Regions from separate parts of the Homo sapiens genome. Here region 1 is linked to region 2. Evidence: fine-mapped expression QTL. Tissue or cell type: whole blood. Region 2 holds a variant in brackets; the other region holds the start of a gene. All regions are shown on one strand. Distances are from middle to middle.

Region 1 (2,755 bases), 28 kb before region 2:
CACTGATCATTTCCGGATGGGAGAATTATGGGTGCTTTTTATCGTCTTGACTATACTTTTCTAAATTATACAAACTCTTAACGATCGATATGCATTTCACAATTAATTGGTTTTAATAAAAAACGCGAGTTAGTGATCTGTTTCTGTATCTCTGGAGCACACCCCGAGACGACACAGCTCAGGGCATGTCCTGGTTAAACATTTGCAAAGAACGCTGTTCTCCAAGTTGGGCAGTGGAAGGTGTACAGTGTGTCAAGAGAAAAATCTACGTCTGAGGAGATATTTGTGACAGCGACCCGGACGCGGATGTGTCTGTCGTCCCCGCCGCCTCCTCCTCCTCCCCGCGTGGTACCCACCTCACCCCGTTGGGCCTCTTCCTCAAGTTCTGTACCTCTCTGGTCTCTTCCAGTTTTAATCTTTAAAAAGAAGAAGAAGCAGCAATGCATAAGCTGAGTGATTCCCCGCGGAATCCAAAGCTAACAGAGCCAATAAGGCACCTTCGAGGGCATCCCAGCCCAGCTACTGAGCCACCAGCACAGTGGTCCAGAGGACGACCTTGTGCCTAGACCCACCGGGAGTCAGAGCCACTGCGCATCCCGGAGGCATCTCTCTCAACCGTTCGAGCTTGGGGCGGTGGCCTCACCCCTTGAGCCTCAATTTCTGCGTCCGCAGAAGGAACCACCACCCGAGCTCACAGTTAACAATGTCAGCGAAGCGCCGAGCCGGTGGTGAGTCCCCCAAACAAGTCTATCTTTACCAAGCCTATGGGAGCCCCGCCCCAAACGCACCGAACCTCCTCTGAGTCCTGCTCATCTTCCTCTGACTCCGAGTCGCCCCGGCGGCGACGGAAAATCTTCCGGACGACCGGCATGGTGACAACGGCCGAGTTGTACAGCCGCCGCGCCTCTGCGCAGCGGCCCAGGCTGCTTCCGGCGCGCGGCAGAGCGGTCAGAGCGCCTGCCCCGTCTGGCCCCGCCCCCGGCACGCACAGTCCGCGTGGCCACGCCCCCTCTCCTGGCGTCAGCCTCTTCCGATTGGACGGCAGAGGGAAGGAGGTGGGGCGTCGCCAGACGGCCCCACAACCCTGCGCGTCGCCTCAGAGGGGGCGCGCTTGACTGACAGGCGGCGGCGGCGCAGTTGCGAGTGCAGGTGAGTTCCGGGCCGCCACCGGCTGCTTCTGTGGGCCGGGCCTCTGAGCATTGGCGACCCCAGCCCGGCTCCGGGCTGACAGGGCCTGGCTTCGCCAGGTACGCCAGACGCAGCGGCCCGGTGAGCGGAGCCCGGGACCCCCCCGGCCGCCGCCGCCCCTCTCCCCTCCTCCGGTCGGCGCCCAGGGGGGCCTCTGGGCCCCAGCACCACCCCACTCTGAGCTCCCTGGGGGCTCGTGGCTTCTCCAGAACCGGGGCCGCCCCCCTCTCATTTCTGCCGGGGCCTGACCTAGCGTTGAAAGCATCCGCGTGGCGTCTCGCGTCTCGGGCGCTGACTTTTCTTTCCTCGGGCTCTGAGCCCTGACGTGCGTTTTTTTCTTTCGGAACAAAAGATGACCACTTCTCTGCGGTGCTGACTTAGAGTCCCAGCGCCGACTGCCTCACAAATAATGGCCCCCAGCTTCTCCGCGAGGAGAGGCGCGTCTGATGTTTTGAAGCCACGCAAGAGGGTTTGAGCCGGGGGACTCCTCCTCGGTGCTTGCCGGCCACCCCCCTGGACCTTCACGGGTCTGGTTTTCCTCCTTCGGCAGGTCTGTCGCTCTACCCTCTGCCCCTTCCACCCCGAAGATGCTGTGAGGATAAAGTTTATTTGAAAAACTGGTATCAGCAAACGCTTAGGAAATACCTAAATGCATAAATAATGGCTTCTAGGACTTTTAAGAACCCCTTAAGTAACAGTAGTTTTCCTTTTCTCAGTGTCATCCCTTACTTTGAGAACTACCTCTTATTAAGCAGTTACTATGTGGCAGGCCCTGGGCAAAGCATCATCTCATTGAATTCTCCCAGCAATCCTTTGAGGTAGATTGTTTTTCGTTTTACAAATGAGAATGCGGAGTCTCCGAGGGGCAGTGCACGCCTCAAGTTACCCAGCTAGGAGGTGGAACAGGAATTGGTTGCAGGTCAGTCTCTGCCGCACGGTTTGCACAGGGCCTGGCACGGTAGGAGTGCAGTAGATGTTTGCTGCTGCTGCAGCTGCTGTTACATCTCATTGGCTAGGGGGAGGGGCCGATGGGGGCTGTCTGGGGTTCCCCTTTCTGGAAGACCATTCCGAAGCAGGGCAGCATTTCTAGAATGCCTTACGTTTTCTCTGGAACAGTCTCCACTGAGATTGTTCTTCTCTTCCTTGGGCTGGAAAAAATAGTAGACTCGGGACTTCTTGCACCAGCGTTTTATCTTTGGTCAAAAGCCATATATTAAAGTCTCAAAGTCTTGCCCTCTGCAGACTGGTTCAGCCAAACCCAGATGCACGTGCACTCACTGGATACGGAGTCCCTGTCAGATGATGGAGAGGCTCCTTGGGAATTGCTGCAGGAGTCCAGGGGGTCAACGTCTGCAGCTCTCACGCTCTCAGAGGTGGCTCTGAATCTGCCCATCAAGCAGCCCATCCACCAGGGGGTACTGGACACTACTAAGGAAAGGGCAAGAAGGCCAGGGGCATTTCTGGACCCTCCTCCTCAGCTGAAGTCCCAGGGTACAGATGAGCTGCTCCCACCCTTGCTCCATGAGGCCAGAGGACCCAGTGATAACCACCACCTGTGCTGTGGCAG
Region 2 (2,755 bases):
GATTTAAAGGCCCATCTGCAAGAGAGTATAAATTCTCATAGCCCTTGCAGCAAGTGCAGGAAAAATGGCACAAGACAACATGCATTGAAACAAGAAGGGGTTCAGAATCTGGTGAGTGGGGGAAAAAGGAGGTTATAAAGCATTGCATGGTACAATCCCGTTTTATGGGAGAAATGCGATTTTCCATTAAGGATAAGGCTGTGAGCTCCATGAGGCCAAGGATGTCTCCTGTGTCTGACGTGCTTCTCCTACCCAGTGGAGGTTAGAGATGCAGTATATGTATGCGGGAAGCAGAGAGGGAATGGGTACAAATGCGTAGAAAAGTCTGGAAGGCTATGTCCCAAAATGTTCCTAGTAACTATCCTCAGGTGGCAGGATGCAGGTCAATTATTGTTAATAATTGACCACACCCAGGCTGGGCGCAGTAGCCCACGCCTGTAATCCCAGCACTTTGGTAGGCCGAGGCAGATGGATCACCAGGTCAGGAGATAGAGACCATTCTGGCTAACATGGTGAAACCCTGTCTCTACTAAAAATACAAAAAACTAGCTGGACGTGGTGGCACGCACCTGTAGTCCCAGCTACTGGGGAGGCTGAGGCAGGAGAATCGCTTGAACCCGGGAGGCGGAGGTTGCAGTGAGCTGAGATCATGCCATTGCATTCCAGCCTGGGTGACAGAGCGAGACTCCGTCTCAAAAAAAAAAAGAAAAATTGACCGCACCCAATCCGTTTTAACTTTAATAACCTCTTTAAAGGCCCTGTCTTGGCTGGGCACCGTGGCTTACGCCTGTAATCCCAGCACTTTGGGAGGTCAAGGCAAGTGGATCGCCTGAGGTCAGGAGTTCAAGACCAGCCTGGCCAACTAGTAGAGCCTGTCTCTACTAAAAATACAAAAAAATTAGCCAGGCATTGTGGCATGTGCCTGTAATCCCAGCTACTCGGGAGGCTAAGGCAGGAGAAGCACTTGAACCCGGGAGGCAGAGGTTGCAATGAACCAAGATTGCACCACTGGACTCCAGCCTGGGCAACAGAGGGAGACTCTGTTTCAAAATAATAATAATAATAATAAAAAAATAAGGTAAGATAGATAAGATGAGATAAAATAAAAATGCCCTGTCTCTGGGAGTTAGGGCTTCGCAGATGAATTTTGGAGGATACAATTTTCTCATAACTGGTAGGAGCCTTCTAGTCACCTTCAGGAGTTTCTGGGTCCAGGGCCACTGTGCTCCCTGTGCGAGCACTCAGGGCTCCCCGCTATGCAGCCCTTTCTAAACTGCCGCATGCCTCATTTGCTCTCCTGACCTGGCTCTCTCTCCCCTGCACCCAGCCCGCCGCTGACTCAGTTCTTCTTGGAGTGTGGCGGCCTGGTGCGCACAGATAAGAAGCCAGCCCTGTGCAAGAGCTACCAGAAGCTGGTCTCTGAGGTCTGGCATAAGAAACGGTGAGCAGCTGCATCCCTAGCCTTGGGCGGTGTGTGGGGACTGGGGTTTCCTGTCAGCACCCATG[A/ATT]TTGAGTACTTCCTGTGGATTCAGCCCCCAGCGAGGACTTGCCTCACTTTGTCCCGGGTAATGCTTGCAGCAAGCCTGCGGGGTGGAAATTGCATCCAGTCCTGTTTTACAAATAGGGAAACTGAGGTGCAGAGCACTTTAAGTATCTTGCTCAAGGTCATAGAACCTGCAAAAAGTGAGCTAGAATTTGACCTACTGTTGACCCTACCGAGCAGCCACTGGTAGATGTCTTTGCCAAGAGACATGGTGACCCGGCCTCAGCCAGGACTGTGTGTGTAGAAGGAGGTGTGGGGCAGGGGAGCACAGACTGGATGGAGCTTCTGGCACAGTATGAAATTAATTTAAAGATCAGAGTCTGTGATTAGATCTGTTTCTCCAGGAAAAGTCAAAGTTGGGAATAATTTTAAATGAGCACATAGAAATATGTATTATGTGTAGAAGCGGATGAAAAACCAGCGTAGGGCCAGGCGCAGTGGCTCACGCCTGTAATCCCTGCACTTTGAGAGGCTGAGGCAGGTGGATCACGAGGTCAAGAGATCGAGACCGTTCTGGCCAACATGGTGAAACCCCGTGTCTAATAAAAATACAAAAATTAGCTGGGTGTGGTGGCGTGTGCCTGTAGTCCCAGCTACTCGGGAGGCTGAGGCAGGAGAATCACTTGAACCTGGGAGGCGGAGGTGGCAGTGAGCCGAGATCGCACCACTGCACTCCAGCCTGTTGACAAAGCGAGACTCTGTCTCAAAAAAAAAAAAACAAAAACAAAACAAACCAGCATGGGAGAAATATGTATTAAATGTAGAAGCAGATTAAAAACCAGCGTGGGGCCAGATGCAGTCACTGACACCTGTAAATCCAGCACTTTGGGAGGCCGAGGCAGGAGAATCATTTGAGCCTAGGAGTTTGAGACCGGCCTGGACAACACAGCAAGACCCCGCCTCTACAAAAACTACAAAATTAGCTGAGTGTGGTGTGAGCACTTGTGGTCCCAGCTACTCAGGAGGCTGAGGTGGGAGGATCGCTTGAGTCCAGGAAGTTGAGGCAGGCTGCAGTGAGCTTGATCATGCCATTGCACTTCAGCCTGGGCGACAGAGTGAGACCCTGTCTCAAAAAAAAAAAAAAAAAAAAAAAAGTCTGTGTGCAGTGGCTCACTCCTGTAATCCCAGTACTTTGGGAGGCCGAGGCGGGTGGATCGCAAGGTCAGGAGTTCGAGACCAGCCTGGCCAATGTGGTGAAACCCCGTCTCTACTAA

The links. PIP is the estimated chance that this variant, and not a neighbour inherited with it, causes the effect.
Region 1: it holds the start of USP20, and the variant in region 2 is fine-mapped to the expression of USP20 in whole blood (INTERVAL, PIP above 0.99).

What each region holds. Positions count from the first base shown.
Region 1 is chr9:129,834,351-129,837,105 of GRCh38, forward strand. It overlaps USP20 (ubiquitin specific peptidase 20), which reads left to right and starts at 1,108. Exons shown (of 26, transcript NM_001110303.4): 1 at 1,108-1,149. It overlaps C9orf78 (chromosome 9 open reading frame 78), which reads right to left and starts at 925. Exons shown (of 9, transcript NM_016520.3): 1 at 789-925; 2 at 357-416. The coding sequence starts at 871. RefSeq lists silencers at 857-1,206, 1,237-1,386 and an enhancer at 1,358-1,858.
Region 2 is chr9:129,861,859-129,864,613 of GRCh38, forward strand. USP20 (ubiquitin specific peptidase 20) reads left to right here. Exons shown (of 26, transcript NM_001110303.4): 9 at 1,328-1,441. Among named protein-coding and RNA genes, the nearest start is that of MIR6855, 6.4 kb to the right of the region's middle. RefSeq lists an enhancer at 1,358-1,527. The variant A/ATT (reference allele first, on the strand shown) is at 1,507.